4 separate regions of the Homo sapiens genome follow, and all the other regions are linked to region 1. Evidence: fine-mapped expression QTL. A gene starts in region 1. Each other region holds a variant in brackets. All regions are shown on one strand. Distances are between the middles of the regions.

Evidence for each region. PIP is the estimated chance that this variant, and not a neighbour inherited with it, causes the effect. A credible set is the group of variants that fine-mapping cannot tell apart.
Region 2: its variant is the best candidate, but not a certain one, in a credible set for the expression of EIF4B in whole blood (TOPMed, PIP 0.67).
Region 3: its variant is the best candidate, but not a certain one, in a credible set for the expression of EIF4B in whole blood (TOPMed, PIP 0.64).
Region 4: its variant is the best candidate, but not a certain one, in a credible set for the expression of EIF4B in whole blood (TOPMed, PIP 0.56).

The regions. Positions count from the first base shown.
Region 1 is chr12:53,003,794-53,009,571 of GRCh38, forward strand. It overlaps EIF4B (eukaryotic translation initiation factor 4B), which reads left to right and starts at 2,663. Exons shown (of 15, transcript NM_001417.7): 1 at 2,663-2,703. The coding sequence starts at 2,691. RefSeq lists enhancers at 2,034-2,777, 2,778-3,521.
Region 2 is chr12:53,024,794-53,030,571 of GRCh38, forward strand. EIF4B (eukaryotic translation initiation factor 4B) reads left to right here. Exons shown (of 15, transcript NM_001417.7): 7 at 2,989-3,126; 8 at 3,222-3,395. Among named protein-coding and RNA genes, the nearest start is that of EIF4B, 21 kb to the left of the region's middle. The variant G/A (reference allele first, on the strand shown) is at 2,561.
Region 3 is chr12:53,040,552-53,046,329 of GRCh38, forward strand. EIF4B (eukaryotic translation initiation factor 4B) reads left to right here. Exons shown (of 15, transcript NM_001417.7): 15 at 1-1,664. TNS2-AS1 (TNS2 antisense RNA 1) reads right to left here. Exons shown (of 4, transcript NR_033854.1): 3 at 5,410-5,510; 4 at 2,638-5,102. Among named protein-coding and RNA genes, the nearest start is that of TNS2, 6.6 kb to the right of the region's middle. The variant T/C (reference allele first, on the strand shown) is at 2,520.
Region 4 is chr12:53,033,763-53,039,540 of GRCh38, forward strand. EIF4B (eukaryotic translation initiation factor 4B) reads left to right here. Exons shown (of 15, transcript NM_001417.7): 9 at 44-272; 10 at 850-947; 11 at 3,647-3,860; 12 at 4,594-4,649; 13 at 5,476-5,581. Among named protein-coding and RNA genes, the nearest start is that of TNS2, 13 kb to the right of the region's middle. The variant C/T (reference allele first, on the strand shown) is at 2,963.

The sequences.
Region 1 (5,778 bases):
GAGACCATCCTGGCTAACACGGTAAAACCCCGTCTCTACTAAAAATACAAAAAAAATTAGCCGGGCGCGGTGGCAGGCGCCTGTAGTCCCAGCTATTCGGGAGGCTGAGGCAGGAGAATGGCGTGAATCCGGGAGGCGGAGCTTGCAGTGAGCCGAGATCGCGCCACTGCACTCTAGCCTGGGCGCCAGAGCGAGACTCCGTATCAAAAAAAAAAAAAAAAAAGAAAAGAAAAAGGAATAAAAGAATGGCTACTCCATAGGCAGAGAGCAGCAGCATGGGCTGCTTGACTAAGAATACTTACCGTTATTTCTTGATTATATGGGAAACACGGGGTGGATTATTCATGTTTTCCCTGGAAAGAGGAGGGCGATTCCCGAACTGAGGGTTCCTCCCCCTTCCTCACATTGCCATGGCATCTGTAAACTGTCATGTCCTGGTGGGAGTATCTTTTACCATGCTAACGAATTATATTTAGCATATAATAAGCAGTGAGGAGAGGTCAATTTAGTCGCCATCTTGGTTTTGATGGGATTTGGCTGGCTTCTTTACTGCATGCTGTTTTATGAGCAAGGTCTTTGTGACCTATAACTTGTGTTGACCTCCTGTCTCATCCTGTGATTAAGAATGCCTAACATTCTGGGAATGCAGCCCAGTAGGTCTCAGACTTATTTTACCCAGCCCTATTCAAGGAGTTGCTCCGGTTCAAACACCTCTGACAATTGCACTCTCCATTCAGTAGCCTGAGTAATCTCTTTTTTTCTAATTAACGCGTGACTTACATAAAGTACACAAATCTTAAGTATTCACAAATCTTAAGTATACGAATTCTAGATATACACCCATGTAACCACCACTCACATCAGGATACTAAGTAATCCTTTTTAAAATTTTATTTCAACTCATGACATTTCTCTGCCTTAAATCATTCCACACTTTCCCAATCCCCTCACATGATCAGCCTCACATGATCCAGCCCCTCTCTCTCAAGATTCATCCTGTACCACTCCTCCCTCCCCTGCCCTCACCATATTGCAGCAAACCCAACTGCGCATCCTGTCTTCTCCTAAACCTCTTCAGAAGACATTCCCAGGGATGGCAGCTTGTAATTTAGACCTCTGTCTGAATGTCACTTCCTCAGAGGTCTACTCTGACAGGCAATCTAAAGTTGCACCTAATAACTTATTACACCACCTTGTTTTAATTACTCACAGAATACTTGTTGTAATATTTTATTAGTTGCTTATTATCTGTCCTTCCCCCACTAGAATATAACCTCTTTTGGGACAGTTCTATTCCATGTTGTACCCGCAAGTGTCTGTGCCTGGCACACGGTGGGAAACAAAAATTTTCATTTAATGAATGAAATGGAACATCAGCTAGGGGAAGCATGAATAGCCCTAGTCTCAGAAATCCTAAAGGCCTAAGTTGGACTAAACCTAGTCAGCAAATTGGACCATTAAATGAGGTAAAAGCCCATGACAATTAAGTGTTCAGCATTTGTTACCTTCTTATTCCGTCTAAATATGCCTCATTAAAACCATTCTTACACAAGACGTTCGATTTGTTTTGCCTTTACAAAAAGTAATTTGAAAACAAACAGTGGTTGATGCCTGTAATCCCGGCACTGTGGGAGGCCTCGGAGGGAGGAATGCTTGAGTCCAGGAGTTCGAGACCAGCCCAGGCGACACAGGGAGACACACCGCCCCCCCCAAGCCCGCCACTCTGTCTCCACACAAAGACTTTTTTTTAATTAGCTGGTCCTGGAGGCACTCGCCTGTGGTCCCAGCTACTCAGGAGGCTGAGGTGGAAGAACTGCTTGAGCCCCGGAGGTTGAGGCTGCAGTGAGCCGAGATCGCGCCACTGCACTCCAGCTTGGGAGACAGGGCGAGACCCCGTCTCAAAAAATAAAAATAAATAAAAATAAAATCAGTGATTTCTGATGTGGCTTTTAAAAACTAGGCCGGGCGCGGTGGCTCACGCCTATAATCCAGCACTTTGGGAGGCCGAGGCGGGTGGATAGCCTGAGACCAGGAGTTCAAGACCAGCATGGCCAATATGGTGAAATATCCCGTTTCTACTAAAAATACAAAAAACTAGCAGCGAATGGTGGTGGGCGCCTGTAATCCCAGCTACTCCAGAGGCTGAGGCAGGTGAATCGCCTGAACCCGAGAGGCGGGGGTTGCAATGAGCCGAGGTCGCGCACGCCATTGCACTCCAGCCCGGACAACAGGAGCGAAACTCCGTCTCAAAAAAGTACATTAAACTCAGAATCTTCCCTTTCAGCACATCCATTTCGCCACACCCATCACCGGCTCCGTGCAGAGTAAGCAGAAGCAGCAGCGAAGCCCCGCCCTTCCCGCCACTCTTCCGGCAGGAAGTCTGTGCGTCAGGAGGCCGGCCAGGACTCAGCTCCAGCCCCGCGCTCGCGTGTAGCCCTACGTAAAGCGTGAGGGGTTTCGCGACAACCCAGGCCCCGCCCCTTTGGCCACATGTCGCGCATGTCTTCCCGTCGGACGGCGTGCCACCTCGCCGCGCAGCTTTACGAACCTAGAGCAGCGCCGCCCCGCCTCCTGTCTCCGTCCTCACCTCCCCGCCCCCTCCCAGCTTCGCGTCTCCTAGCTCGACGCGCCCGCTATAATCACGTGATTGCCTCATCCGGGTCTTTTGCGTTCTCTTTCCCTCTCCCAACATGGCGGCCTCAGGTGAGCGAGCAGCCGAGCGCGGCCAAGGACTGGGCTCTGAAACCCCCCTCCGAGCGTGATCCACTGATTTCCTGAAGTCGGGGAATTGCTGGCACTGGTTCCTTTCTGAATTGAGGGCTGCGGCAGGCTGGCGGCGTGGCCCTGTTAGGTTACTGCCTCTGGATGTTTGGGGGGGAGGGGAAGGACACCTTCCCCTCCCCCTCACACTCTTTTCACCCTTTCTGCGCGAGATTGGAATAGGCAGTAATGGTAGACTCTGGCTTGAATTGGGGAAGGAGGCGCAGAAAGGTGTGCGGGTGGTGCGAGGCCTTTTCGTAGACGTGAATCACCGTGCCCGCGTGAAGGCGTGGAGGAAGGAAGGAGGCGGTTGCTGCGCGGACGAGTGCACATTAGACTACGTCTCCAAGGCGCGAGGCTGTAGCGGACCGGAGTGGGGGGTAGGGGAGTAAGTGTGGTGGGGGGGAGCAGTTGGAACGCGAGCGCGAGTTGGTGGAGGGGCGGGGGAAGGCAGCGGTGCGCGTGCGCGGTAGGAGACACGAGGGTAGTAGAGACGGGCGCGCCTTCAATGCGTGCGCTAGAACCCAGATGGGAAGCTTTTTAACGCGCCTGTGTTGCGCACTTATGTCCTTTTAGGTTGTCTCTTCCCTTTCTAGAGTGTGGGCCCTGTGCCTGTATTCTTCTAAGGGTGTGTGTGTTAGCCTTGGAGGTTGGTGCTATTGGCGTTAGATGGGGGTGGGGAATCCAGTTAGGTGCGCCCACGTGTTGGAGAAGCACCGGTGTGCACCTAGATTTCCTTCTAGGCTTTTTTCTCATACTCAATTGGAGGCATTTTTTACTCAGCGCAGCTATATGCCAGGATCAGGTTTCGCTTCCGGCGCTTCCATGTTGGTTGAATTTGGATAGCTCCAATGGTAGATTTCAGCCTTTTTTTTTTTTTTTTTTTTTTTTTTTTAAGGTAACTGTGCAACTACCAGCAGGTACTTTTAAAATAGTGCTTACTAATGGCTGGAGTTGCTTACTTCTTTAGACAACCTTGGAGGGGAGTATCAGTGCCTTGCAAGTCTAATTACATTTCTAATGGGCTTATAAAAGCAGTGATGACCCAACATCTTGTAGCATTGATTTTAGTTTGAGGAATATAGTTTGTTTTCTCTGGCATGACCTTGCATTCTTCAAAACATTATTTGAACTTCTATCTCTGGGTGCTCATTTCTTACCTAGTAATTCATCGTCTCTATTACAAAGAAGCTAAGGGTTTTGGTTGGCTTTGGAAAATGTTGAGAAATTTGAGGTGCATTTGAACATCTTTCATTGGTGTAACGCTTGACAGTTGACCAAGCACTTTTGTGCATGTTGTCTCCTTCCATCCTGAGGTACTGCAGAGAGCTAGTGGTATTTCTCAGCTAAGGAATATTATTTAAGGCCACACTGCTCTCAGCTGGCAGAGCAAGGTCATAATCTTTGAGACTCCTTAGCAACTTAAAAGTATCAAGGTGTCATCATCAGTTTAGGACGCTGCCCGAAAGCATCTGAAGTTTACAAAAATGTTCATATTTTTTTCTCCAGTGGGCTAGTAAAAGTCCTAAATATATTTTAAACTAACCATTGCTTAAAGTACTTACTTGGTCTGGATTTGCCACCTTAACAGTTTAGTATCGTAATTTAGTGAAGAAAATCTGTGTTTTCTTAACTTTTGTGTAATTTTTAGAGGCGGAACATAGGACAGCAATTCATGTCCTTCGTTTTACCGAGTTGAGGGAAATCCAGACTGATAAAAGGGATTTACTCTGACGTCCCATTCTCTTGTTCTTCCATATTTACTCTACCCCCTTGAAAACCCTCATCTCCTTTAATTCACTTCAGTAAATCTTTTTAGCTGGTACTGGTATCTGAGCACAAGTCACATCTTTCAGTCTGTTCTTGAGGAATCTGGGGTTTATCGGATTGTTTCCCCGCTCCTCTTTCCAGTCACACTGGCTTTGTGAAGTAACCAGTATTCCCTGATGTGGGAAATGGATGTTATGTGTTCTGTGTGAAAATACATAAAACAACTTCATACGCCTCTTTTACTGTTAAATGAGACCAAAAAATTCTTTGCAGCAATACCAGTTTCCAGTGTGATCCATTATTGACCTTCAAGAACTAAGGTAGGTCTCAGAACTAACTATAGAATGAGGATAGTTTGAATTCCTAGAAACTTGATACATTGAGCCAGTACACTTAATTCCTTGCTTTGCTTCTTAAAAAGAATTCTTAAAGGCCGGGCGCGGTGGCTCACGCCTGTAATCCCAGCACTTCGGGAGGTCGAGGCGGGCGGATCACTAGGTCAGGAGTTGGAGACCAACCTGACCAACATGGTGAAACTCTGTCTCTACTAAAAATACAAAAATTAGCTGGGCGTGGTGTCGCGTGCTTGTAATCCCAGCTACTCCGGAGGCTGAGGCAGGAGAATCGCTTCAATCTGGGAGGGGGAGATTGCAGTGAACCGAGATTGTGCCATTGCACTCCAGCCTGGGCAAAAGAGCAAGACTCCATTTCAAAAAAAAATCTTAAAAATACGAAGTTTTTCATTTTTCTTAAATTTTCATTGTGACTACTTTAGTAGACTTGCCAGTAATAAGCCAGTTACCGCTTGAATCTCAGTTTCTTTATCTGGAAAGTGGTCATTATTTATCTGCTGTCCCCTTACCTAGAGGGAATCAAATGCGTTTGATACAGGTTAACATTTAAAATGCTTTCAAATTGGGCAGGGTGCAGTGGCTCATGCCTGTAATCCCAGCACTTTGGGAAGCTGAGGTGGGTGAAACACCTGAGAACAGGAGTTCGAGACCAGCCTGGCCAACATGGTGAAACCCAGTCTCCACTAAAAATACAAAAATTAGCGGGGTTTTGGGCTGGGCGTGGTGGCTCACGCCTGTAATCCAGGAGGCAGAGGTTGCAGTGAATTGAGATTGCACCACTGCCCTCCGGCCTGGGCGACAGAGCGAGACTCCGTCTCAAAAAAAAAAAACAAAAACAAACTTTAAAATTGGAAATAACATATGTAAGCTCATGCACAGGCCTTTCATTTCCATA
Region 2 (5,778 bases), 21 kb after region 1:
TACAGATGCGCACCACCACACCTGGCTAATTTTTGTATTTTTTAGTAGAGATGGGGTTTCACCACGTTGGCCAGCTGGTCTCTAACTCCTTACCTCAGATGATCTGCCTGCCTTGACCTCCCAAAATGCTGGGATTACAGGTGTGAGCCAGCGCTCCCAGCACAAGCATTTTAATTTTGTGAGGTACCTTTTGAGCTTTGTACTAAATATAATTGGGGAAGCAGTAAGGGATATGTATAATTCCTTTTAGAGGAGAGTCCTTAACCTTTTAAGATGTAGAAGGAAGAAGAATGGGTCATAGGTCTGAAAGAAGGATAAATCAGCAAGTTTATATCTGACTTTTTACATGACTTTGTGACACAGCAAAGCCTTGGGGAGAACTATGTGAGGTGATTAACTTCAGCATTTATGCAAGAGATTCTATTGTTAACAGGAAGAAATGGCTCTTGAAAGAAAAAGCAGACAATCAGACCAAGGGTCCTGTTTTGAGTCCAGGGGCATGACTTTTCTCACCTGAAACCTTGAATTTAGAGCAAGCAGAATGGATAACGAGTGAGTGTGCTGTTGTTATCCAAAGCTGCCCCAAAGTCAACTTAGTTAACCTGAATTAAAGATCCAGAGACTCCTGTCCCAAGCATTAGGCCAAAAAGAGAACCCCGAGGGGTGTTGGGGGGTATTACACTCAGTATTCCTATGAAATGTCAGTAATAGCATGTGCTGCTTTTCTCCAGCATGGATCTATGCTTTCTCAGGAAACACAAGCTTATCATAATTTCAGTATTACCCAAATAAAATTAAGTGTAAATCGCATCTCCAGAAATTAAAACCACATTTCAAAATAAACACAGGGCTGATTTTCTTATATGTGTCCTGTTTTAGATCATTTCTATAATCATTTTACTAACATTAGCATGTTCTTTAATATATAAAGTTTATAATACCAGGAAATGTTATGTCTGGTCAGTAAAAATTATGTGGTTTCCAAAATGAAATCATTATTTAAAAGACAGCAGCCACAAGAAAAAGATCCCTGGCCGGGCATGGTGGCTCACGCCTGTAATCCCAGCACTTTGGGAGGCGGAGGCGGGCGGATCATGAGGTCAGGAGATTGAGACCATCCTGGCTAACACGGTGAAACCCTGTCCCTACTAAAAATACAAAAAAAAAATTAGCCGGACACGTGTAACCTCAGCTACTGGGGAGGCTGAGGCAAGAGAATCGCTTGGACCCGGGAGGTGGAGGTTGCAGTGAGCCCGCGATTGTGCCACTGCACTCCAGCTTGGGCGACAGAGTGAGACTCCGTCTCAAAAAAAAAAGAGAAAGAAAAAGATCCCTGTTTGTCCCCCATACATAAATTATCAGCTCTTAAAACGTGTAGGTTGTTTTAGTTAGTTAATTTATATTTAGAAATTCAGATTTTTTTTTTAACTTTAAAATCTGGGTTGCCAGCTTCTCTCAGAAAATTGGAAGATCCTAGCAACAGTCAGCTGGAGCTAAATAGCAGCTATCCCTTTTACAAACAACATAACGCTACCCACAGTTTGCTATCTGAGCTACTACGTTTCTTTATACAGATTTCTAGTATTTAGGGTCCTCTGATACTGAAATGCACATGTGTGTGTAAAATATAGTTTATAACATAAACAACATTGCAATGAATGTCTTTGTACATGTATCTTTATCACACATCCAATTATTTCCTCAGTGAATTTCAAGAAATTAAATTGTTGGTCAAGAAGGGTATACATGACTTCAAATCTTTTCATGCATAGTTCTAATACAACTTTCAGTATTTATACTAATTTATTGATTTATTTATTTATTTTGAGAGGAAGTCTCACTCTGTCACCCAGGCTGGAGTGCCTTGGCACAATCTTGGATCATTGCAACCTCTGCCTCCCTGGCTCAAGTGATCCTTCCACCTCATCCTCCCAAGTAGCTGGGACCACAGGCCTGCACCACCATGCCCGGCTAATTTTTTGTATATTTGATAGAGTTGTGGTTTCACCATGTTGCCCAGGCTGGTCTCAAACCCCTGAGCTCAGGCAATCCACCAACCTCAACCTCCCAAAGTGTATTTGTACCATTTAAAATTATGATCAGCAGTGCAGAAATTGATTTAAGCTCCTAAAATTCAATAGAAAATTATGTCCTGTTAGTCATATGTTGCATATATTGTTTCTCATTTTGTTTGCCTCTTAAAGTGATCTTTGAGGCTGGGTGTTACGGCTCAGGCCTATAATCCCAGCACTTTGGGAGACCAAGGCTGGAGGATTGCTTAAGCCCGGGAGTCCAAGACCAGCCTGGGCAGCAGAGAGAGACTGTCTCTCAAAAAAAAAAAAAATTTTTTTTTTTTTTTTTTTTGAGACATAGTCTCACTCTCTCGCCAGGCTGGAGTGCGGGGGCATGATCTCAGCGCAACCTCCGCCTCCCGGGTTCACACCATTCTCTTGTCTCATCCTCCCAAGTAGCTGGGACTGCAGGTGTGCGTCACCACGCCCAGCTAATTTTTGTATCCTTAGTAGAGACGGGGTTTCACCATGTTGGCCAGGATGGTCTC[G/A]ATCTCTTGAACTCGTGATCTGCCCACCTCGGGCTCCCAAAGTGCTGCTGGGATTACAGGCATGAGCCACCGTGACCAGCTAAAAAAATTTTTTTAATTAAAAAATAAGTGGTCTTTGGGATCAAACATGGGAGATTCCCAACTGTATTGTTTTAGTGTCTTGTGCTTTGTTTTGTTTTTTGTTTTTGCATGTAAACCTCTTCTCCTTCTGGAAATTCATTATGGAATATTTAGGGATTTTTTAATTTCCAACCCACCCTTCCCAAATTATTAGCTGAGCAACAATTATTTCACCAGGGAAACTTTTTGAAGAAATCAGATAGAAAATTTAAATAAACAGATTCTTCCAAATTGGACTGATAGCTTACCGTGTTTCTATTAATGGTGTCAGAGAAAAGGGGATGGTGTTACTTGTCTGTTTCCTCTAGAGTATCGAGATCGTTATGATTCAGACCGGTATCGGGATGGGTATCGGGATGGGTATCGGGATGGCCCACGCCGGGATATGGATCGATATGGTGGCCGGGATCGCTATGATGACCGAGGCAGCAGAGACTATGATAGAGGTAATTGTAAAACATGTCGAATTGCTCTTTCAGTAACTTTGCCTTTTTTTTTTCCCCCTCCGCTGTGATGATTATAATTTGGGATATATTTACAGGCTATGATTCCCGGATAGGCAGTGGCAGAAGAGCATTTGGCAGTGGGTATCGCAGGGATGATGACTACAGAGGAGGCGGGGACCGCTATGAAGACCGATATGACAGACGGGATGATCGGTCGTGGAGCTCCAGAGATGATTACTCTCGGGATGATTATAGGCGTGATGATAGAGGTAATAGTTTTCTTTTTACGTACTTCATGGAGCAGAAACTGGGAAAACTACGGAAAATTTGTGATTGTGTTACGAACTACTGAGTTGGGCACAAATATAATTTGCACATTGTACAGGAAGCAGCAAAGCATAGTAGAAAGAGCATTGGCTGGCCAGGTGTGGGCAGATCACAAGGTCAGGAGATCGAGACCATCCTGGCTAATGGTGAAACCCCGTCTCTACCAGGTGTGGTGGCAGACACCTGTAGTCCCAGCTACTAGGGAGGCTGAGAGAGAAGAATGGTGGGAACCCGGGAGGCAGAGCTTGCAGTGAGTGGAGATGGCGCCGCTGCACTCCAGCCTGGGTGACAGAGTGAGACTCCCCATCTCAAAAAAAAAAAAAAAGCATTGGCTAAGGATGACATCAGTGGAAACACAGCAGTCGAATTGTTTTCATCTCATATGCCTTCACAGATAGATTTTTCAGTTAAAATTTATTGAATAAACAGTAGAAATGGAAAAAAAAGTTGCCAGATACTGTTATGTTGTGATCTCAGTAAATTACACTTAAAACAGATGGTTTTAGCTCCATTTTCCAAGTAAGGGAAATGAAATTCAGATTAAACATAGTCCTGTAGCCCATAATTGGTACTATGGGGTTAAAAACGAAGCATTAAGGCCAGGTGCAGTGGCTCACACCTGTAATCTCAGCACTTTGGAAGGCCAAGGTGGGCAGATCATTTGAGGTCAAGAGTTCGAGACCAGCCTAGCCAACATGGTGAAACCCCGTCTGTACTAAAAATACAAAAATTAGGTGGCCGTAGTGGCACATACCTATCATCCCAGCTACTCGGGTGGCTGAGGCAGGAGAATTGCTTGAGCCCAGAGGCAGAGGTTGCAGCGAGCTGAGATCGCACCACTGCACTCCAGCCTGGGCGACAGTGAGACTGTCTCAAAAAAAAAAAAGGATTGCTTTCTGTACCATTATACCACAATAATTGATGTTCATTAATTATAAAGGTGAGATTTTGGTGCACCTATTCTAAAATTATGCCCCTAATACTATAAGATATAAAATGTAAACTGTGTTACAAATCTAACCTGTTATAAAATACTAATAAATGGCCACCATTTGTGTTCTAACTTCAGTGATGTCATATAAAAGGTTATGGTATCTGGCCCAGAATTTTTTCTATCCTTTTTTTATTTTATTTTTTTTTTTTTGAGACGGAGTCTTGCTCTGTTTGTTGCCAGGCTGGAGTGCAGTGGCATGATCTCAGCTCACTGCAACCTTTGCGTCCTAGGTTCAAGCAATTCTCTTGCCTCAGCCTCCCGAGTAGCTGGGACTACAGGTGCACGCCACCATGCCCAGCTAATTTTTGTAGTTTTAGTAGAGACAGGGTTTCACCATGTTGGCCAGGCTGGTCTCAATCTCTTGACCTCGTGATCCGCCTGCCTTGGCCTCCCAAAGTGTTGGGATTACAGGCATGAGCCACCGTGCCCGGCCAAATTTTTCCTATCTTTAACATCTTTGTGTTAGTCCTAAACTTTGTGGCAATGGCTTTATATCCATCATCTCCTGTGATTCCCCAAGAAAGGAAAATCGATCTGGACAACTAATAAAACACAGTGAGATGACAGAATTCATCAGAGCCATATGGCAATTCTATTGCAGTGAGGTCTTTCCTTCTCCCTCAGAAAATGGTGAAGTCTTTACTCCTTCCTCAAAATAATAATAATAATTCAATGTTTGTTTTTTTTAAAAAAAACTTAGGCCAGCCATGGTGGCTCACATTTGTGATTCCAGCACTTTGAGAGGCCAAGGCAGGAGGATCACTTGAGTCCAGGAGTTCAAGACAAGCCCTGGCAACATAGTGAGACCCCATCTCTGCAAAAAATACAAAAGTTAGCTGAGCGTGGTAGCATGTGCCTGTAGTCCCCGTGTCTTAGGAGACTGAGGTAGGAGGGTCGCTTGAGCCTGGGAGGTCAAGGCTGCAGTTAGCCAAGGTCTCATTTCAGCTTGGGCAACATAGTGAGACCCCATCTCTGCAAAAAATATAAAAGTTAGCTGAGCGTGGTAGCATGTGCCTGTAGTCCCCGTGTCTTAGGAGACTGAGGTAGGAGGGTCGCTTGAGCCTGGGAGGTCAAGGCTGCAGTTAGCCAAGGTCTCATTTCAGCTTGGGCAACATAGTGAGACCCCATCTAAAAAATAATAAAATAGGAAATAGGTTTTAAAAAATTATATTCTTTTTTTTTTTTTTTTTTTTTTTTTGAGACGGAGTCTCTCTCTAGTTGCCCAGGCTAGAGTGCAATGGCGCGATCTCGGCTCACTGCAACCTCTGCCTCCCAGGTTCAAGTGATTCTCCTGCCTCAGCTTCCCAAGTAGCTGGGCTTGCCACCACGCC
Region 3 (5,778 bases), 37 kb after region 1:
TATAATGCCTGGAACCTGGTTGGGCAGTAGGGGAGGGAGGTAGAAGGAAAAGTGTGAGATTTCTACCTTTTAGTTTTTATCCTATTGTGGCATATATGAATTCTCAAACATTATCTGAATAAATTTTCCACTCTTGGAAAGGTAGATTTAGCCTCAAGTTGTTCTAGTCTCCAGGAGGCTGCCAGCCCCTCCTCTTATTTAATTCTGAGTTTTGGGGGCCAGCCTAGAGGGAATTCCTTTTTTTTTTTTAACCCCCCAGGGGGGTAGTTGGGAGTGAGACTATAGGCCATAAAGAATGGGACTGCATTGGACCAAAATAAATGGGAAAATCGTGGTTTGAAAAGAAGCTTTTGGGAAGTGATGAGTCATTTTGCACCAGGTAATAGGGGAAAATTGTGTGACCTCCAGCAAACACATGAATGGTTATTTCCTGGAGCCGGAAGCACTTGGGGGTCGTGGTAATTCCCAGTGTTTTCTGTGTCCTAGTTTTACCCTTTCTAAACACTGTCCTTTTTGAAAGTTTTGAATATATCCACATTCTATTGAAACCTTGAAACTAAAAATTTAGACTCTTATCATCATCTTAAGTTCTTCATGCTACTCTTAACCTCCCAAAAAGCAGTATCTAAGTCACATACATGATGTCTTGGGCATTTTCTCAGCCATGGAGAACTCTGAAAGGAAGAATCGCTGCTTTTCTCAAGCAAATCGGTTTCTTGATGTCTTTTGGTTCTCCTTGCCTGCTCCTGATGCTTGGACCCCTTTTATTGATCAGAGTGCTCTAGAATAATGGATGGTCTTGGATGATGGATAAATAGGGACAGGGACAGTTAAATTGGGAGCCTTTCTTACAACCTTGATGGGATTTTTCCCCCCAAGTTTCCTTCTCCACTGAAATGCCACACTAATGCTTGTTGGATTCATGAGGTGGCCAGACCAATGTGTTGTTTTGTTGTTGTTTTTTTAAGCTTCCCTTGAGAGAATAAATGGTAATGGAGAGAACTATTTAACAAGGTCCTGGTTTCTCTTGCAACACAGTAGCTAAACTTGCCTGCTTTTATATGCATTTTTGTAGGGATCAGCTTGGTAGACAGTATTAGCGGAGAAACACCTTGATCTTGGTTTGCAAGCCCTTCTCCCATCAGTCCTAGATTAGGCCCTGTTCAGCCATGCAGGGGTGTTGGTTTATGCGTGCTGCAGCAGTGGGCATAATGAATATAATTTACCCAGTGGACAAAGGTGTGTACCAAGTGAATTTAAATAATTGGTGTGGATTGGCCAGTAGCTAAGAAGTGGGCTTTTAAAGAGTATTGAAGATTGAAAGGGTTTTTCTTTCTTTTTTAAAAAAGAAAAACAAACTATTGATTGTAGATAATGAAAAGCTAGGGTTTGCCCTCTTCATGTCTACTCTCCTTCCAAATAGTTATATCCAAAACTGTTTTTCCCTCTCCCCTACCTTGTCCCCCCTATTAAAATAGAAACAGGGATTGATTAATGTCCCGCTCCTGAATACATGTAAAATTTGTACAAAAATATCTTCTATGAAAATGATTTGTAATCTGTAGACTTATTACCTGGGAGATGTCTTGATGTAAAATCCCATCCTTTGGGTTGTGGGTTTTTTGTTTTCTCCAAATAAATCTGATCTTTAAAGTTCATTGTAATGCTGAAGTTCTTTGACAAATACTCTGCACTCCCAGTGGTTTTTACTGTAGTCATTGACCACCTGCTCCTCCTCCTCCTACCATCTCTGAAGTTTTCATTCAGTATTGGATACCATATTGTCCAAGATTAGAGGGTGGGGTTACAAGGGAATCTATTTCAGTGTTTATTGAGGCCCAATAATAGAGTTTGCATCCTAGCTCCCCTCTGGCTTTTTTTTTTTTTTTTTTTTTTTTTTTTGCCTGGTGTTAAATTTTTTAATCACCTGGATGTGCCTGCAGTCTATTTCCTGTACTGTTTATTTTAATCAAGATGTGGGAACTCTAAGAATGAATCCTTGTGTCCTTGGGGCAGTTCCCTCATAATCTCCCTCCCTCACTTCAGCAATCTGGAGAGATGCTGCTCCCTTGAGTTACACCGCACTGGTGGACCAGAGATACTGGTGACAGGCTGGTCGAGGTTACCAGAACAGAGGCTCACAGACTCAGTGGGAATTTTCCAAACAGCTAGGGACAGACTGGTCATTGTTGCAAGGCGGGAAAGGGGTTAGGACAGTGGCAGAGAATCCTTAAGGTCACAAGGAGGTGGAGCATAGAAAGGAGCCCGGGAAACCTCAGTCAACAATTTTGGGGATTTAAGAGCCAAGATGAGGAGCCAGTTAAATGATTTCCCAGCCAATTGGAGCAGCTGCTCTTCTAGTTTCTGGCCAGTGCATTTATCTCTGTTCTCCAAAACTGGTAAAGTTGAAGGCTATGAGACTCAGCTGTGATGATGTGAAGGCTTTTCAATGTGGGTTTAGGTGCCCCTATTGTCCAGGCTGCCTGGAAACCTACAAGGTAATGCTTTTTCACTGCCTC[T/C]CCACCACAGGAATCAGTTTCACTCACATTCTCCAAGCCTTTGTTTCAAGCCACTCTCAGCTGTGCAATAATGAGGTCTAGGTAAATGATGGAAAGAAGGAACATAAAAATAGGAAAGGCTTGTTGAAAGAGGTTTATGATGGCTGTGTACAGAAAGGGTAGAGAGGAAGGCCCTATGTCCCAAAAGGTACTCTAAAGTCAGAGAAAACCTGGGCTGTAATATGGCCACATCCTCATTTAAATTTAAAAAGACGTGTGTGGCCAGGTGCCATGGCTCACAGCTGTAATCCCAGCACTTTGGGAGGCCAAGGCGGGCACATCATGTGGTCAGGAGTTCTAGACCAGCCTGGCTAATAGGGTGAAACCCCGTCTCTACTAAAAATACAAAAATTAGCTAGGCATGGTGGTGTACACCTGTAGTCCCAGCTACTCAGGAGGCTGAGGCAGAAGAATCGCTTGAACCCGGGAAGTGGAGGTTGCAGTGGACCGGGATCGCACCACTGCACTCCGGCCTGGGTGACAGAGCGAGACTCTTGTCTCAATGGTTGCTCACACCTGTAATCCCAGCACTTTGGGAGGATGAGGCAGGAGAATCGCTTGAGCCTAGAAGTTTGAGACTAGTCAGGGCAACATGGCAAGACCCTGTCTCTACAAAAAAATAGAAAAATTATCCAGGTATGGTGGTGTATGCCCATAGTTGCAGCTACTTGGGAGGAAGGATCACTTGAACCCAGGAGGTCAAGGCTGCAGTGAGCTGTGATCACACCACTACACTCCAGCCTGGGCAACAGAGCAAGACCCTGTCTCAAAAAAAAAGTGTGGGTCCACCGAGAAGCCCCCCAGCTGCAGGAGTGGACCCAGGACTGGTCAGCCCTCATTGTCAACGTCTTGTAAATCTTGAACTAGTGGACGAGTAGGGGGAAAGTGCAGGTGCAGCAACCTACTTCAAAAGGGCTAACTTGAGGCTGATTAGGTCCCGTGTGTCTCCCAGTCCACATTAGCCTCGTTTCTTCTCAATAGAATCAAGCACTATACTCCGGATCCCAAGGCACTAGGGTCCCAGTTCGTGCTGAGGGCGTCGCCTCAAGTGCTAAGCGAGCTCACAGCATCTGGTTTCTCAGGAAGTGAGAGAGCTACACATCTGCTCCTGGGAAGCATTATTTGTCAAATAAGCCTTGTTTCTCAGCAACCATTGTAGCCCCCAGGGCCACAAGTAAAGGGGGGCTTGCCTTCCCTTACCCTCCCCCAAAAGAAATTTGGAAGAGACGAGCTGAGCTGCTCCCCGCCCAGCTACAGCAACCTCCAGCTTGGACAATACACCCTCTGTCCTCAGCCAGGAGATCCGCCTCTGGAGTTGGCTCTGCCCCTTCCCCCACTCTTCCTGGTTCCCAGCACCCAAACCCTCTACTGGAGTTCTCCTGACCCAGTGGTCTCCAGCCAGGACAGTCCCACACCTTCAAATCCTCCCCCTACAGTCCCCGCACCCCAAGGATCTGAGCACATTCAGTTACAGGCATGGGGTCACCCCAGACCATGGAAGAGGGGGTTCCATCTTCAGTGCCAAGATGGACCACCCTCTGCATAGTCAAGGTAAGAAAACCTGTGTGGAGGGAGGTCAGAGGTGCTCCTGAAATTGTTTGACCTTTACTAACATCAACCTGGCTTTCTCCTCCTCTCCTTCTTCCTCTCTGAAGCTCCTGCTGCTGTGAGCTGGAAATCAGGATGCCTGGCTGGCCCATGAACCACTCATTTTTGTTTCACTCCCACCAAGCTACCTCCTGTATAACTTCTCATTCTCAGCTTTTCTCAGCCCTTCCTGCAGCCCCCTTCTCCACTATCCCCACATTGAGAGTAGGAATCAAGCCTGAGCTGGGAGTTTGGCCACCCATCTTGTGACCCTTTTCCAATTCCTTGGAACCTCTAAAGTTCTTCCCATGGGCCTGCCAGGCAGCAGCAAAACCAGCATGTGTGAGGTTCTAGCCCTTACCCCTCACCTCTCTGGGGTCCAATCAAGTTCCTCTTTGAGTCCCAGTCTCTCCATTGGTAACTTTAGAGCTTAAGTAAAGGTACTCCCATGGCATCCATCCCAGAGCCCAGCCAAAGACCCTAAGGAATGCTGGGAAGAGCAAGATGTTAAAAGAGCTGGTTGAAGGCTCCAGAGACATGAACACACTTAATTATCTCATGATTCTCGATTACATAATCAAATCTGGCCAAAATACATGGGACAACCTTCAGCCTTGCCCTTTCTCCAGGAGCCTCCAATCCCTGCCACTTTCCTCGGTATTCCCCTAACTCTTGCCTCTCCCCTCCTCCCAGTGCCTCCCTACTCATTCCCGCCTGGCTTCCCCCACCCCCACCTCTCCTGTCCCCAGTCCCCAGTGACTCCCACTGCTCTAACCTCTGAAACTGTCTATTGGACACCAACTCAACCAAGAGCAGTAAGATCAAGGCTCCCCAGTCCCAACCATATCCACCCCTCCCAAATGCCAATTTCTGGGTGGGGGGGGACACACAGTCATCACGCACTTCTTCACAGACTCTTCTTCCCTGTGGCAAGATTGGAATCAGGTGCTCCACCCCCTGGAAATGAGAACCAGACTTCTCAGCCTTTGCCAAAGACAAGGGACCCAGTTGAGATGAGACGGGGAGGGAAAGAAGGCCTTAGAGCCAGTGGTACTGGCTACTTTGGGCAAGCACTGGGCATTGAGCCCTGGGCACTGGGTTCTCAGAATTCCAACCTTCCTTCCCCCCGCCCCTTTTCATCATGGAAAATCCAGCAGGGAGGGTGAAGGAGGGAGAAAGTTTCAGGAAGTGCTCACTGCTAAAGGACGTTGGGGGAATGTAGGAATGGCAACAGGTTCAGAACTTCTAGGAAGATGTCCCCTACCTTATCCCTACCCTCCACCTTCTGCTCCAGGGTGGCACGACTCAAACCTGCCCTACGGCCCATTAGCTCCATTCCATGAAGTTCCTATCCAGTACCAGGCACTGCAAAAGAAGGGAATGAGGTCAGACCATAGAAAGAACTTCCATCTCCATTTGGAAAGGCTGGACTCAAGTTAAATGTAAGGAAGACCTTCTCAGAGGTCTCCTGCGAACTGGGAATGACGGTCCAGCTCTTTAAAATAGGGCAATGGGCCGGGCACGGTGGCTCACGTCTGTAATCCCAGCACTTTGGGAGGCCAAGAAGGGGAAATCGCTTGAGCTCAAGAATTGGAGACCAGCCTGGGCAACATGGCGAAAACCCATCTCTACA
Region 4 (5,778 bases), 30 kb after region 1:
CTGGTGATTGGAAAACTATTACTTAAAGTTTCATTTAACTTAGGTCCCCCCCAAAGACCCAAACTGAATCTAAAGCCTCGGAGTACTCCTAAGGAAGATGATTCCTCTGCTAGTACCTCCCAGTCCACTCGAGCTGCTTCTATCTTTGGAGGGGCAAAGCCTGTTGACACAGCTGCTAGAGAAAGAGAAGTAGAAGAACGGCTACAGAAGGAACAAGAGAAGTTGCAGCGTCAGCTGGATGAGCCAAAACTAGAACGACGGCCTCGGGAGAGGTGTGTTGTCTTGATGGATATCCCATCTAGGAATCCGGTGGTTCGTAATGGGGGCATTACATCCCCAGGGGCATTTGGGAAATTTGTGTCGTTATCACATTAGTGGTTGTCACTGATGGGCATTTAGTGGGCTGTGGCCAGGGGTGTTAGGCAGTATGCAGTGTTAGGGACAGTTTTACACAATGAAGAGTTGTTCCCTGTCCATTACAAAAGTGTTTACTATTAAAAGCTGGTATTGTATCTAAAAGGCTAGAGACCTACTATAATAAGTAATTGCCCTGAAAAACTAGGCCTGGTAATGAGTGGCTTGTAGAACTGTGTTGATTAGTAAAGAAGGGCAGTATTGTAGATTATGTAGGATACTGTTCTTAACCATATTAGTTGATTCTTGCTGAAGTATTTAGGGCCAAAGTGTGTCTTAATGTCTGTAGCTTTCAAATAGTTTGAGGGAAAGATAAATTTATATGCATATACACATATAGATGAAGTAAGTGATGGTTCTTGAGGGGTCAGCATGGGTCTAAGGTGGCCTTCACTGAGCCAGGCATAATGTGTATTTTGTGAATCTCTCGTACAGACACCCAAGCTGGCGAAGTGAAGAAACTCAGGAACGGGAACGGTCGAGGACAGGAAGTGAGTCATCACAAACTGGGACCTCCACCACATCTAGCAGAAGTAAGTCAGACCAGGGTGGGTATCGTGTTATTGCCGTTTTCCATAAACTATCCATAACCAAATTATGCAGAGACCCTGCAATATTTAAATTCAGTCATGAACTCTTTATTTGGGTTGCATGGGCCGATTGGAGTTTCATATCTTCTGCTCCAAAGAATCTGAGGAATGGGTACCAGAGTAGACCTAGATGATCTGCTTAATAATCTACCACTGAAGTGTATACTTGGTTGTTAGGTTTGTCTCTCTCTTTTTTTTTTTTTTTTTTTTTTGGTATATTTTCATTTTATGTCTTGACATCTTTGAATGTTGTTTATTCAGAACAGTCAACGGCTTGGAGTTTCATGTGAGCTGTCCCAAGACCAGCCTTTTTTGATGTTATCATCACCAGAGCAGTGTTCTCAAGCAGTGTTATTACTGGTTGATCAAGCACTTTTAGTGTTTTGGAAACCTAAATGGTTCAATTGTAATACCTCCCTTCCCTTACCATGATGTGTTTTTTTTGTATTTTGTTTTGAGACAGGGTCTTACTCTGTCACACAGGCTGGAGTGCAGTGGCATGATGATGGCTCACTGTAGCCTCACCTCCCTCAGCCCTCAGCCTCCCTAGTAGCTGGAACTGTAGGCATGCACCACTACACCCAGCTAAATTTTTTATTTATTTATTTTCTTTTTTTTTTGAGACCGAGTCTCGCTCTGTCGCCCAGGCTGGAGTGCAGTGGCGCGATCTCGGCTTACTGCAAGTTCTGCCTCCCGGGTTCATGCCATTCTCCTGCCTCAGCCTCCCGAGTAGCTGGGACTACAGGTGCCCACCACCACACCCAGCTAATTTTTTGTATTTTTAGTAGAGATGGGGTTTCACTGTGTTAGCCAGGATGGTCTCAATCTCCTGACCTCATGATCCACCCGACTCGGCCTCCCAAAGTACTGGGATTACAGGCGTCAGCCACCGCACCCAGCCTACACCCAGCTAAAATTTTGTAGAGATGGTTTCCCCATGTTGCCCAGGCTGGTCTCAGCCTCATAAAGTGCTGGGATTCCAAGGGCCAGCCACTGTGATATTTTTTAAGGTCTTTCCTCCCACCTCTAAATTGATTTGTACTTGCATTTCATTCATTTATTTATTTATTGAGATGGAGTCTCGCTCTGTTACCAGGCTGGAGTGCAGTGGCACGATTTTGGCTCACTGCAACCTCTGACTCCCTGGTTCAAGCAATTCTCCTGCCTCAGCCTCCTGAGTAGATGGGATTACAGGTGAGCGCCACCATGCCCGACTAATTTTTTGAACGGGCTGGTCTCAAACTCCTAACCTCATGATCCACCCGTCTCGGCCTCCCAAAGTGCTGGGATTACAGACGTGAGCCACCATGCCTGGCCTTCTATTTTTTTTATTTTTTATTTTTGTATTTTATTTATTTATTTTGAGACGGAGTTTCGCTCTTTTTGCCCAGGCTGGAGTGCAATGGCATGATCTCAGCACACTGCAACCTCTGCCTCCCGGGTTCAAGTGATTCTCCTGCCCAAGCCTCCCGAGTAGCTGGGATTACAGGAGTCTGCCACCAGGCCTGGCTAATTTTTTGTATTTTTAGTAAAGACGGGGTTTCACCATGTTGGCCAGGATTGTCTCCATCTCTTGATCTTGTGATCTGCCCGCCCTGGCCTCCCAAAGTGCTGGGATTACGGGCGTGAGCCGCCGTGCCCGGCCTAGTTTTTTATTTTTAAGACAGGGTTTCATTCTCACCCAGGCTGGAGTGCAGTGGTGCGATCATAGCTCACTGCAGCCTCAAACTCCTGGCCTCAAGCAATCCTCTTGCCCCAATATCCCAAGTAGCTGTTATACGACGGGTGCACGCAACCATGCCTGGCTAAATTTAAAAAATTTGTTTTTTTAGAGATGGGGTCTCACTACACTCCCCAGGCTGGTCTCAAACTCCTGGCCTCAAGCAATCCTGCCTCAGCCTCCCAATGGGGGCTCCTTGTTTTTAGAAGACACTTAACTGCATTTTTTAAAAAACGCA[C/T]GTGTAGGTTGTTGTTTTTTGAGATGGAGTCTCACTCTGTCAGCCAGGCTGGAGTGCAGCAACATGATCACAGCTCACCTCATCATTTCTAGTAGCTGGGACTGCAGGCACATGCCACATCCAGCTAATTTGTCTATTTTTTGTAGAGCTGGGGTTTCACCATGTTGTCCAGGCTGGTCTGAAACTCTTAGGCTCAAACGATCCGCCCCCAACAGCCTCCCAATATCCTAAGATTACAGGCGAGAGCCACTGCACCCAGCCAGTAGGTGGTTTTTCATAAATATGATTGCATCATAGTCCATGTGTGTTGAGTTTTAAGCTGAAGTTGAGCAGTGGTTACTAGAGTTTGGGGTTTCATTGTAGGTCCTCTTCACATATGTATATTCTCCAGGTCAAGACACTTTTAACATTGAGAATGCAGAAAGGCTGTAAAGGATACTCATTCCTAAAAAGGTCACATGGCTGGGTGTCCCTTAAGTTGTATACATGGTCATTATTTTTTCTATTTCTCTGTGCATCAGTAAGACATTGTTCTGGAAATACTTGTAAACCACTGGTTTAGGGATAAATCCATCTTTGGGAGCCAAAACTTGGATGTGGACCATTTTCCACACTGTTGAGATCCTGGTAGATGCGTGAGCATCTGCAGCCTGATAATTTGATATTTTCACTCTGGCTTCACAGATGCACGAAGGAGAGAGAGTGAGAAGTCTCTAGAAAATGAAACACTCAATAAGGAGGAAGATTGCCACTCTCCAACTTCTAAACCTCCCAAACCTGATCAGCCCCTAAAGGTAATGCCAGCCCCTCCACCAAAGGAGAATGCTTGGGTGAAGCGAAGTTCTAACCCTCCTGCTCGATCTCAGAGCTCAGACACAGAGCAGCAGTCCCCTACAAGGTGAGTCAGTTTGGAAACAGTAGTTGGTTAACTGCAGATTCTAAAATACTGTGATGTAATGATGGAAGATCTCCTACGGGATGCCAGCGTTGTATAGCACCTTATAAGTTATGCTGGCTTTAGTCTCTTAGTGTGCTGGAACTGGCTCATAAGACCTAGTTGTTCCATTTTCTGGAGTTCCACCACTTTGATAGCTTGAAATCAGCTATGATGGGAGTACTAATGCCGCACAAATCTGCAAATACTGTAAGTCAGAGGCTTCCCTTTTGCCACATATTGGCAGTATGGTAGGGGGTAACTTCCTTTCATTTCTCTTAAGTCTTCTCATTTGTAAGCAAAATAGCAACACTATTAGCCTGGCGTGGTGGCAGGTACCTGTAATCCCAGCTACTCGGGAGGCTGAGGCAGGAGAATTGCTTGAACCTGAGAGCGGAGGTTGCAGTGAGCCGAGATGTGCCATTGCACTCCAGCCTGGGCGACAGAGTTAAGACTCCAAAAGAAAAGAAAATAGCAATACTAATCCTGCATGATGTGATGATTAGAAAGCATATGGCACTTTAGTGTTCAAATTACTGCTTTCATTGTAATCTTTCCCATATTTTAATGTTCCATAACATTGAGTATGATTTTGTTTTCTATAAAGCTTACCCACTGCATTTGGAGGATGATTATGTTTCTTGGTTGTTTTCTCCCTGAAACAACTGATGAATGTGATTACCTGTTTTCCTTCTAGTGGTGGGGGAAAAGTAGCTCCAGCTCAACCATCTGAGGAAGGACCAGGAAGGAAAGGTGAGCTCATAGTATGGGAAATAGGTTTTTCACCTAGAAGCCTAAATAAAAAGGCCTCCAAAATTAGATTTTGAAGAGCAGTGTGTCTCGCACCTGATACCGTGTTAAGAGTTCTTGGGTTGGCCAGGCGCAGGGGCTCACACCTGTAATCCCAGCACTTTGGGAGGCCAAGGCGGGCAGATCACAGGGCAGGAGTTTGAGACCAGCCTTACCAACATGGTGAAACCCCGTCTCTATTAAAAATACAAAAAAAATTAGCCGGGTGTGGTGGCACATGCCTGTAATCCCAGCTACTCGGGAGACGCTGAGGCAGGAGAATTGCTTGAACCCGGGAGACGGAGGTTGCAGTAAGCCAAGATGGCCCCACTGCACTCCAGCCTGGGCGACAGAGCAAGACTCTGTCTCAAAAAAAAAAGAATTATTGGGTTATCTACCTTTTCTTGCCAGTAGAGGGAGGAGTGGCCTCTTTGGAGAAAGTATGAAACCCTGCCCTTTCCTGGTAGAACATTTCTTTGACGGGGAGAAAAAAATCGGAAGGAAATTAACCAAGGTCACTACAGAGCGTCATAATCTTTATTTCCAGCTTGCTTTTCATGATGGCATATCCCTACATGGAACTTTTTAGTGGATTTTGTTTGTTTTTTGTATTTTTGTGTGCTGTAGAGGATGTGGAAAGAAGGGCTTCAGGAAGGAAGTCTGGGTTGGGGTGAGGTTAGTTTCCCTCAGTACATGTGGGCACAATTTTCTTCAGCTTAAGGGAAATCTTAGGAGAGGGACATTGATACTTTTACTTGCCTTTAATTTGTTTACATTACTGCCCAAGCAGATGAAAATAAAGTAGATGGGATGAATGCCCCAAAAGGCCAAACTGGGAACTCTAGCCGTGGTCCAGGCGACGGAGGGAACAGAGACCACTGGAAGGAGTCAGATAGGTATGCTTGTTCTCTTTCTCATCTTTCCTCTGATCCACATGTTTGTGTAATTAAGAAATTAAGTTCTTGGTTCTCAGAGCACTGCCAGATCGCTCATTGTGAGCAAACTAAAGTCAGCCAACGTAGACAGTTAAGATTCTGAAAATCTAGAAGTAATACATCATCCAGACAACAAGGACTGTTGACTAGAGGTGCCT